Linked DNA regions of Homo sapiens. The protein of the gene in region 2 interacts with the protein of the main gene of each other region in a pairwise test. Each region holds a gene or a part of one and is shown on either strand. Other genes may lie near its edges.

Evidence for each region.
Region 1: the proteins of ADTRP (region 2) and CMTM7 interact in binary tests that used the Homo sapiens proteins (3 or more experiments, as listed by UniProt).
Region 3: the proteins of ADTRP (region 2) and TMED8 interact in binary tests that used the Homo sapiens proteins (3 or more experiments, as listed by UniProt).

What each region holds. Positions count from the first base shown.
Region 1 is NC_000003.12:32,436,726-32,440,379, forward strand, and holds part of CMTM7 (CKLF-like MARVEL transmembrane domain-containing protein 7), read left to right. Parts: intron 1-3,654.
Region 2 is NC_000006.12:11,776,602-11,780,355, forward strand, and holds the start of ADTRP (androgen-dependent TFPI-regulating protein), read right to left. Parts: upstream 2,203-3,754; 5' UTR 2,159-2,202; coding exon 2,006-2,158; intron 1,141-2,005; exon of another isoform or gene 993-1,140; intron 1-992. UniProt on the Homo sapiens protein: Hydrolyzes bioactive fatty-acid esters of hydroxy-fatty acids (FAHFAs), but not other major classes of lipids. Show a preference for FAHFAs with branching distal from the carboxylate head group of the lipids.
Region 3 is NC_000014.9:77,339,059-77,342,712, forward strand, and holds part of TMED8 (protein TMED8), read right to left. Parts: intron 2,931-3,654; coding exon 2,713-2,930; 3' UTR 1-2,712.

The DNA.
Region 1 (3,654 bases), on a different chromosome or scaffold from region 2:
CTTTAGCCAGACACAGGCACACTCAGTGGACCAGACTTGGCAGAGGCACGAGGGCTCAGGTCTGCTGAGGAAATGTTCCCAAGCATGGGTGGCAGGAGACAGGGTCCTGAGACCACCAGACACCTCCCCAGCCCAATCAGAAGCCGACGTCTCTTGAAAACTGCCTCTTGAGTTTTCTGTAGAGATTTTTCATCGTAGACCTCAAAATCTCATTTCTTTCTGGAAGGATGCTCAGCCAGGCTGAGAACCTGGGCAAACTTTCTGGCACCTGGCTGGTTGCGGGTGTACACTCAAGCTGCAACCAGACTAGTTTGGTTCCAGAGTCCTCAGGGGACCATCACTTTTCTCAGATCATGTCAGCTTCCTTCATCTCTTGTGAAATTTAAACCCTCTGCTCCTTCCAAAAAATCATGTCTTCTTTCTAGTAAGAATTCTGACAGAATGGAGTCAGAAAGGACACAGGTTCCAGGGAGTGATGTTTCTTATCTGGAATTCTAATTCCAGTGATTCTGTGGTATCATGGCTGGTCTGTGGGACCCTTGCTTTGAGTTGAGGGCTCTTGCAGTGTTACTTTTAAACCCCTGGACATGGCTGGGCACCGTGGCTCACACCTGTAATCCCAGCACTTTGGGAGGCTGAGACGGGTGGATCACTTGAGGTCAGGAGTTCGAGACCAGCCTGACCAATATGGTGAAACCCTGTCTCTACTAAAAATATAAAAATTAGCCGGCCGTGGTGGTGCACACCTGTAGTCCCAGCTACTCAGGAAGCTGAGGCAGGAGAATCGCTTGAACCCAGAAGGCAGAGGTTGCAGTGAGTGGGGATAGCGCCACTGCACTCCAGCCTGGGTGACAGAGTGAGACTCTGTCTCAAAAGAAAAAAATAGGCCGGGCGCGGTGGCTCACGCCTGTACTCTCGACACTTTGGGAGGCCAAGGCATGCAGATCGCAAGGTCAGGAGATCGAGACTCTCCTGGCCAACATGGTGAAACCCTGTCTCTACTAAAAATACAAAAATTAGCTGGGCATGGTGGCGCATACATGTAATCCCAGCTACTTGTGAGGCTGAGGTAGGAGAATCCCTTGAACCAGGGAGGTGGAGGTTGCAGTGAGCTGAGATGTTGCCACTGCACTCCTGCCTAGCGACAGAGTGAGACTCCATCTCAAAAAAATAAAATAAATAAAATAAACCCCTGGACATTTATGTTAGATATTTTATTTTTATGACAGTTCAATATAAAAGAACAAACCGTTACGAGAGGAGCTAGAAGGCACCTTAAGAGGCAAGTGAACCCTTTGGACAGCATCACTTTGAAGTTACTCTACACAGAAACATCTGTCTTCCAGGAGCCTCCCAGCTGCTTCACTCCGTCCTGAAGTCAGAACCCCTACCTCCAGTCCTCTCTGAATTCAGGCGTGTTTGTGCATTTGCTTTTCTAACTGGGAACACGAAGACACCTGAGAGGGTTGGAGCTGGCGGGAGGAGGGCAGGGATAAACACCCCAGCGCCTTTTCCCCACTATTGTCTTGTTCTTTCTTCCACTTCACCTTTGCTTTCTTTTTTAACTTGTATATTAAGTTCAGGGGTACTTGTGTAGGTTTCTTATATGGTAAACTTGTGTCATGGGAGGGGGTTGTTGTACAGATTATTTTGTCACCCAGGAATTAAGCTTCTAAATAATTCAGGGGGCCCCAGCATTTGCAGAAGTTACCTACTGGCTTTAGAAGAATTTCTGAAAAGTTTGATGTCAGTCAAATCTTTTTTTTTTTTTTAACTTAATATGCTGGCTAAGATGCTGGCTATTTAAAGTTGGAATGAATGAATCCCTGGGCAAAAAGGAAGCTTTTAGGAGCACGCATAAGCACACACCATACTCTGGCTAAATTAGATTTTCTAAAATTGGGCTTTCCTAAAGAAAGTCATATGGTAGATGGCCATAGGCCCAGTGAACCGAATTCAGAAAGTGTTATTTCATGAGCAAGTTTCCCAGAAAGGTTCGAGATGTTTCTGATAGAGCAGGAATGTACTTCCTACTACACAGTACTCAGCCCTGGAGGCTCAGAGCAGGAAGACCTGACCTGCACAGGCCCCTTTTGTTGGCTGGGAAACTTCCACATCCCTGTGTCACCATGAAAAAGAGCTAACTTTGTCTTCAACGACGAGTTGGAAAATTATTTTAATCTCTGCATTAAACTAGATGCAAAATTGCCTCTCTACCTAGGAATCACGCTGCATAATCCCACATTATCTGCATTTTCAGTCATGCCTTGAATAATGATACTTGAGTTCTTGAGGAGGTCATTGTGGGGCTGGGAAGACCCCTAGACTTCCCCATGTAGATGTGGCCTGGAAGTAAGACTAACGTAGCAGCAAAGCCCTGGCGATCATGCACACTCCTGAGTAAGGCAGAGGTGTGAATCATTATATCACCATGGCTGGCTAGCTTCAGAGGAACCGAAAAAATGAAAACACTTGCGTTGCTCATTAGCAAAGGGAAATACACAAATGTTGAGGGACTCTTTGTGTCACAGCCACACTCTTCTGTTTCGATCTGGTAAGCAGAGCACTCTCCATACCTGCTTCAAGCTTCCAGCTGAGAGTTCTCTTTTAGCTGTTGTACCTATTGCTGAGGATCTTGATAGTGGGCTAGCAACAAGGGGCTTTAGAAAATAAGAGCATTTCAGCATCAACTGTTTTAACTGGAGTAAGATCCATTTTGTGATTTGATTTGATTTTTATTTTTTTAGAGACAGACTTTCACTCTGTCTTGCAGGCTGGAGTGCAGTGACGTGATAATAGCTCACTGCAACCTCAACCTCCTAGGCTCAATTGATCCTCCCACCTCAGCCTCCCAAGTTGCTGAGACCACAGGTGCATGCCACCACGCCCAGCTAGTTTTTGTATTTTTTGTAGAGACAGGGTCTTGCTTGTTGCCCAGGCTGGTCTCAAACTCCTGGCTTCAGGTGATCCACCCGCCTTGGCCTCCCAAAGTGCTGGGATTGCAGGCGTGAGCCTGGGATGCCAGGCATGCACCAGGCCCCATTTTGTGATTTAATTCTCATTGTAGACTGACATTTTCTATAGCAGAATTTTTCAACAGTAGTACTGTAGTTGAGGGGCCACATTTGGGGCTGGAGATGGGTAACTCTTTACTATGGGAGCTCTCCTATTTATTGCAGGGTGCTTAGCAGCACCCTGGGCCTCTACCCACTAAATGCCAGTAGCAACCCCCATCCCCGCAAATTGTGTAAACCAAAAATATATACACACATTGCCAAATGTCCCATAGGACACAAAATCATATACCCATACGCTAACACACCCATACACTAACACCACACGCATACACACACACACACACACACACACACACACACACACTTTAAGACTCGCTGCTCTGGCCAGGCGTGGTGGCTCACACCTGTAATCACAGCACTTTGGGGAGCTGGGGCAGGCAGATTACTTGAGTTCAGGAGTTTAAGACCAGTCTGGCCAACATGGTGGAACCCCCTCTCTACTAAAAATGCAAAAATTAGCTGGGCATGGTGGTGCATACCTGTAGTCCCAGCTACTCTGGAGGCTGAGGCAAGAGAATCGCTTGAATCTCGTAGGCAGAGTTGCAGTGAGCCAAGATCATGCTACTGCACTCCAGCC
Region 2 (3,754 bases):
GGAGTATATGTGATTCCCAATGTTCTATGAAAGAAGCAATGTGGTGGAGAGAGGTAAGTAGGCCTTTCTTCTAAGGATAGAGAGAACACCGGGCAGAGAAGTGACAGCAGGAAGCCCAAGGACCAATACTAGTGAGACGCAGTCCTTACTGCAGAAGAGACCAGCCTCCCAGGGAGAGGGAACCCGAAAGGCTGGTTGGGCAGGTGAGCTCTTGAATCGGGAGTTTGACATTGGGTCCATGAGGCAGGAGGGAGCCACTGTGGTTTCCTGAGCGGCAGGCCACACTTTTAGATCCAGGTCATGGTATTAAAAAACAAACCAAAACCAGTGCTTTGAGAAGATTAATTTGGAATCTAAGTGGCTGGATTGGACCATGAATGGACAGTAAAGAGATGATATGGTCATCCAGGTAGGCTTAATATAAGCCTGGAATGAGAGAGACAGTAGTAAGGTTGAAGAAGAAAGGATGAACTTAGTAAAAGGAAAAACTAATAGGATTTGGTAGCTGATCAATCAGGGAAGCAAAATTGGGATTAACACTAGGAAATGATAGTATCATTGACAAGATAAGAGACTTTTCTCACTCTTGGAAAATAAGGGCTCTTGGAAATGTAGGTGAGCTAGAATTAAAAAGTCAGGATCAGTTGTGTGTGTGTGTGTGTGTGTATACAAAGAGGTAAGGGAGCTAGTTAATGAGTGTGGTGATAAATCTATTCTTAGCCACACATAGTGTGAGGTAGGACATTCATACTGGAATTGGATTTTATTAGAAAGTCAGTCCTAACTACAGACACACTTCCCTTTTAGTGGACTGTTTTTCATAGAAAGCCAATAGAGACACAAACCTTAGGGGTGTGTGTGTATGCGCGTGTGTGTGTGTGGTTTTTTGTTGTTGTTGTTTACTGTGGCACTGCTAGTTATACAAAAAACATTTTTTGTTTTGTTTCTGTTTGTTTTTCTCATAAAATTCCATGATTGAAACAAGTAGTCACCTTGAAGTTTTCAAAGACACTAGAGCTGTGTTCAGGGTTCCAATTTTTCAGGCCCAAATCAAGAGGCCACTAACCAACCAGTGAGGAGGAAGCAGCCACTTTGGGCCTCTTTGATTTTAACTCTCTCCATTTCCACGTCCTTAGCATTTCAGAGTGTCACAGTTTCTGACCACATACATTCTCCGCTTGTCAAATGAGGATTACAATTCTGAAAACAGATGTTTATGTGGCACCCAAGATTTTAGTCAAAAACCTCAAATATTAATTCACATCCCCAAATGATTCCCCATTATTAGCTTTTAACTTTAAAAGTATTTTTTTAAGCTATTCCTCAAAGTATTTTTCATAATCTGCTTTTCTCCCATTCATTCACACTTCATCAGAATGCAGTCAGCCAGGTTAGGAAGACAAGAAAGGAGTAAGTCATAAGATTGGTTTTTAAATAGTTGAAAATGTGTATTTGCCATTCGGTTGGGTGATTTGTCCTTTAAGATGGAGCCTGAACCTATAAAAAATTGAGGTGGGAGCTGAACATGGCAAAATGTGTTTGCTTTTCTTAGATAAATCTGTTAGTCTGTGTGTGCTGTAAAATGGCATTATTCCTTCATTGGAAATTACACTTCCTACACACCATACGCCACTCTGCCTTCTCTTCACAGACTTCCCCAAGCAAAGTTCAAAATGCCTCCTGCATTTGTAGTTAATCCCATGGTGAAACCATTAGCATGGTCCCCTCTTTGAGCTCATCTGAAAAGAGCTCCAAGATGAGATTTTTTTTTTCAAGAGAGCATTTAACAATGAGCCAGCATAGAAATGTTAACTATAGATAATTTCCAAATTGGGTTTATCAGAGCAAATTGTTAAGTAAACAAAAAACCCAAAACTCACAAAACGGTGAAGAAGGAAGACAAATAACAAAATTGTGTATTTAATAAAATCCAAAGATGATATGTGTGGCAGCACTGATATTCTAGAGAAATGGATCGGTTCCTGGTACGGACATATGGACTTACCAGATTAAGCAGCGTCATATATTTCCACCTTGCACCATTTGCCAAGATTTTGGGTTTCACCTCGTCTTTTCCTTCCTGTGAGATGTAATAATTGAGGAAAGTATACCAGCTCAGAACAAGGAAGTGGTATATGCATGTAGAAGTCTTCGTCATGGCGAGTGCTGACCGGGGCACCGTGAATGTCTTGAGTACTTTCTGGCGTCCTTCTGTGGGTCACAGCCTAAGTCCAACAGCAGGCCGGAGAGCTACAAACCACACCCCTCTGGGACTGAGAGTTCCAACACAGGCTGAATTTGGTTCTCTTTTAAGCTCCTTTCCTGATAAACTTCAGAGGCAGGATTACTGCTGGTTTTCAGATGCCTGCATTTAGATAATGATAGATAATCTGTAGATTTGCATAAAATACAACATGTGGGCTTTGAGAAGGGCAGGTAGCAATGCAAGAGCTGTACATTGTACTGTTTCACTAGGGCACTGGGGCAGGGGCATGGTTAAATGAAGTAAGCATGAAATACTAGGAAAATCTAGCGAAATACTTCCATGGCTGTAGTCTCTTTTCTTTTCATTTGCATATAACAAGGAAGTTGCAACCTTATCTCTTGAGAAAAGGAGGAGCAGGTTGATAAACCAGATCATGGGTGTGCTTAGGGCATGAACAGTAGAAAGGAAAAGTGTGTTGTAATTTTGCTCCTGAGGTCTCTGAGATTCTAGAAAGTCTGCAACAACCTTTGATCCTCCAGGGAGCAGCTCCAATGGTTTCTTTTCTTTTTTTTTTCACTTTTGTAACTATACCCTAGAGAACCAAGAGTAACCCAGGGCTGTCCTAGACACTCCATTTGCATAGGCATTTCTGTGCCCTGGGAGGGAAGAAGCAGCACAGGAGACCATCCTTACTATGGCCATGACCCCAAAATACCTGACTTTAGACATTGCTGGGAGAGGGTGAGAGTCCCCGCTCTGCCATGAATAGGATGAGACGTGGCTGGGCTAGGCAGCATGCCGGACTAGGCTCTGACTCAGGTTCCACAGAAGGGAACTGAGGAAGAACTAGAAGTGGATGCCTTGTGACATCGCCAGCTTGTTTCCCTGGGCAACTGACTCCGAGGGGTGAGCAAATCCCTCAGAGAAATGCTCCTGACACAGTTATGTAAGTCTGTAATTGGTGCTTTTCAATGACTTAACCAGGGCTTAAAAGTACTAGCAGAAAGAACTGTAGGCTGGACAAGGAGGACAAACCATAAACAAACCCACCTCCTAAGAGTCAACAGACTCCCAATATCAGGATTGGGAGATGGGAGGAGAGCAAACCTGAGCCCGCCATGGAGTTCTGCATTGTAACCATGTTTTTTTTTTTTTTTTTTTTTTTCATCTGTTGGGGCTGCTATAACAACATACTGTAAACTGGGAAGCTTGGAAACAACAGAAATTTATTTCTCAGTTCTGGAGGCTGGAAGTCCAACATCAAGATGCTGACAGAGTGCCTGGTGTTTAATGTGGGTCGGTTTCCTGGTTCATAAATAGTGCCTTCTGGCTGAGTCCTCATGTGGTAGAAGGGGCAAACAAGCTCCCTGAGGCCTGTTTTATAAGGTCACTAATCCCATTCATGGAGATGCTGCCCTCATGACCTAATCACCTCGGAAAGCTCCCCTCTCCTAATGCCATCACCCTGGGAGTTAAGATTTCAACATAGGAATTTGCAGGGAACACAAACATAGACCATAGCAAACCATTCTCAAAGGAAGGGGTGAT
Region 3 (3,654 bases), on a different chromosome or scaffold from region 2:
TAAATTTGGACTGGGAGGGGCTGAGGAAATGACTGTCTCTTAGAATTTGCTGGGCTGTGGGTTCTCAGTAATTACCTGTGCTTCAGTAAGTAGTATCTTGCCCCTAAAGTTCAATTATTTCAGAAATGTAACATGAAAATAGTGAATTAGACAGTGAAAATATCTTCTTTTAGCTATTTTGTGCTAATGGAACACAGAAACCCTGACAGTTGGTGAAAAACCAGTATGAATGAAATGTAACCATGCCCAGGACTTCAAAAGTGACCAGACCCTAAGAGGCACACAGAGGTGAGGGGAACAAGTCCCTTAGGCTTCCCTGATGCAACAGAACTAGGATTCCAAAGAAAATAAGCAGAGAATCTCATGGTGAAAATAAATAATAACAAGTGTTATCCTTGGGAGCTTGCTGTGTATGGCCTGACTGTTTCAATTTGAGAGAAAGGCAGAAGTTAATAATAAACAGGAAAAATAAGCAAGGCTTTAGCTGACTAGAAAACAGCTCAGTAGAAAATTATTTTACAAAGATTATATTCAGTTAGCTAAGGCATGATTCAACTTCAATGATGCAAGAGCGGTCACTCAGCTATCCAATGGGATGACACACAGCAAATCAGCTCTTCACTGCCTCAACAGACAGTCACTAAAATAATTTCTTTAAAGGTATATAAATGTTGGCCAGTGTAATCCTCTACAAAACACATTTGCAAATATAAAATAATGGAGGTATGATGCTGCTCAGAGAATGGGAATGCTCTGGCAGTCCCCAACATCCTATCCCACTTGGGGCTTTGCTCCGAGGGGAAGAGCAGGTGCAGGATATATTGCCCTTTGATGTGATGTAGATGCTACTAGGGACCCACTGGGAAGAGTCCCGTTCCTTGAGTTATGCTACTGTAGGGATAGACCCTTGGTGTGAGGAATCTAACAATGAGTCAAAGGAAACATCACAAAGAAGGTGACACCTCAGAGGAGACAAAGGACTCTGAAATCCTGGAATCACGGGATATCTCTGATTGGTTAGGGAATTCCTCTGCACTCAATCTCCAGCAAATGGGCAGATTCCCTCACAACTTAGAATTTTTCATGGGGAGTGCTGGACTGTACCCCAAACATGGAGTAAGGTGGCATCATCCATCTCTGAAGGGCCATACTCCTCGCAAAGCCGTCACAGGACTGACCTACAGAAATAAAACATCATCGCTTCCCAAATTCTCCTAAAAATATCATCTTTAACTCCATAAAAGAGGGGGCTTCAGTGGCTCAGAACAGATGGGAAGCCTTCTGAGAAACAGATGGAAACTGTTTCAAAGGCAAAATGAAATGTGCTAAAAAAATAAATACAGTAATAAATAAATCTAATTATTCTTCAGAATTCGTAGGCAGTAACAGACATAACACGAGGAGTAAGAGACAGGGAGGTACAAACACAGAGACTGCTGAGGTCCCATCTCACCTCCGTCTCCTCCTCCGCCTGGGGGCCCAGCAGCTGGTGCTCTGGTGACCACTGGCTGCAGCACTACCTGCACTCTGTGGCACTCCTGAGCCTCAGGGGTGACACAGTAGGAAATGCTGTCACCAGGGAAATGCAAGCTTTGGTCAGGTAAAGAACAAATACAATCAGCAGCAATAGTGAAGCTTCATTATCACCTAAACTAAGGGACTTTGAACACCAAAAGCTTTAAGCCCTCAATGCAAGAAAGCTAAATGCAGAAACTTTGGAAACCTGATTGGGTTTCACTGCATTTGATTCCAAAGCAACATTTCTAAACAGCACTCCTACTCTAAAGACAAAAAAAAGCGGTGGGGACTCTGGAGTGTTTTTTGTTTTTCATCTTCTCTGTCAGATGATACCATTCCTTCTTTGATTATACCAAAAAAAAAAAAAAAAGTAACACGACTTTCAAATATGTGGGTTCTGACATCAATTCAGTACCTAATTTCCACTCTCTCCACTTTGACTGCCAGTGCCCATAGTAAGGGAAACCAGCTCTTGGAATAGGAAATAATGGGGGCAGTTTTTCTTCCCACAAGATCTTAGGTTACATTGATCATCACTTGAGATTGCATGAATGTTCTTGCTGTAATGGCAAAAACATAGACTTAGGAAAGAGAAAGGAGGGGGTGTCTACCATCAGGAATAGTAATAGCCCTCCAAAGGCAGTGTGGTCTCCCAGCTATGCAGAGACCAAGAATAACCAGCAGGCAGGAATATGGCAGTGGTGACAGGCTGGATAGAGCTTTCTCCAACCAAAAGATGGGGCTCCTTCATGGGCAATGTGCTTTTCCCTCTTCTGGCACCTCAACAACTGAAGAGAGTGGGTGCCACTAAATGCACTGGCAATAAGGGCTGTGGGAGAGGAGAGGGCAGCAATCTGAATGATAAACCTGTGCCAAGATGAATCTATTTTTAAAAAACATCGCCCTGCTTCCTTTTAGGCTTGTGCCCCATAGGTGCCTTCAAGAGGGAATTTGCTGGAGTCTGAAGCAAGAAGGGTATGAGTCAGGGACTACAGAACAGGGGCACTACACCACCACCTGCAGAAGCCAAGAAGGGGAAAAAGCTACGTGGGCCAACAGTCAGGCATGCCAGACAGGGTGTGAGGCTCAGCAGCCCCCCATGAACCTTTGGCTCTTGCCTATCCCAAACAAGAGGCACCAGCTGGCAGCCTGCTTCAGCCAGCAAATACAGCCTGCCCCTGTCCCAGCAGTCCTTCAGCTGGTGTAGTAGATGTGGAAGTAGAGAGTCTTGTTGCGCAGCAGGGAGTAGGAGTTGTCGAACTTGAGCAGGTAGATGCCCTCACCAGGGTAGTCATGGCTGCCAGCCTGCACGTCTCGGTGGCTGTCCCGCCGGTACACAGGCATGACCTCCCCATAGCGACCCCGCAAGGAGCTCCTGGAGCCTCTCTCCACATCTCCAGCTGGAACGGGTTCTGCGTGAGCAAAATGGCAAAGTGTTCAGAGACTGCGTAAGTCCTGCCTGAAGGTGAGCGGAAGGACCAGGTGACCCAGTGGCTTTCACAGAGCGGGGAGATTATTGCCCTCCTACAGACATTTGGAAATGTCTGGTGATCTTTTGGTCATCACAGTGACTATTAGGTGATATCTGCATTTAGTACCCAAGGGTCCAGGAGTGCTAAAATCAGGATAGTACCTACACAACAAACAATGTCCCATCCCAAATGCCAATAATGTCTCCACTGAGAAAATGATTTAGCCTGAGAGGAGCCTTCCTAGCTTCAGAAGTGTCTGGACATTTCTGAGAGGGAGAAAGAGATATTTAGAAGAAAAGATCCCGATATTCTATCATTTAGTAGGTGAAAGGACTAGCTAACGAAGATAGGAATTGCAGATAAACGTGCTATAAAGTGACCCTAGGATTCCTGAAAAGCAGCAAATAAGATACAAGGTTCTCCGCTTTCCCAGATACCTGTAGGTTTCCCTGCCCGCTTGCTGTTCTATGAAGAAGCACGTTAAAGGACTGACTTTAAGATTATATAAGAAAATCAAGGAATAAGAGGAATAAGACTAATGCTTAGGACCTACTCTTACGTTATCTGAAAAATGCCTCTGGGCCATCCTTTGTGTAGTGTGTAGACACTACAAATAACAGCCGGAATGGAGCCCGGAGACCCTTTTAAAACTTGTCTGGGCATG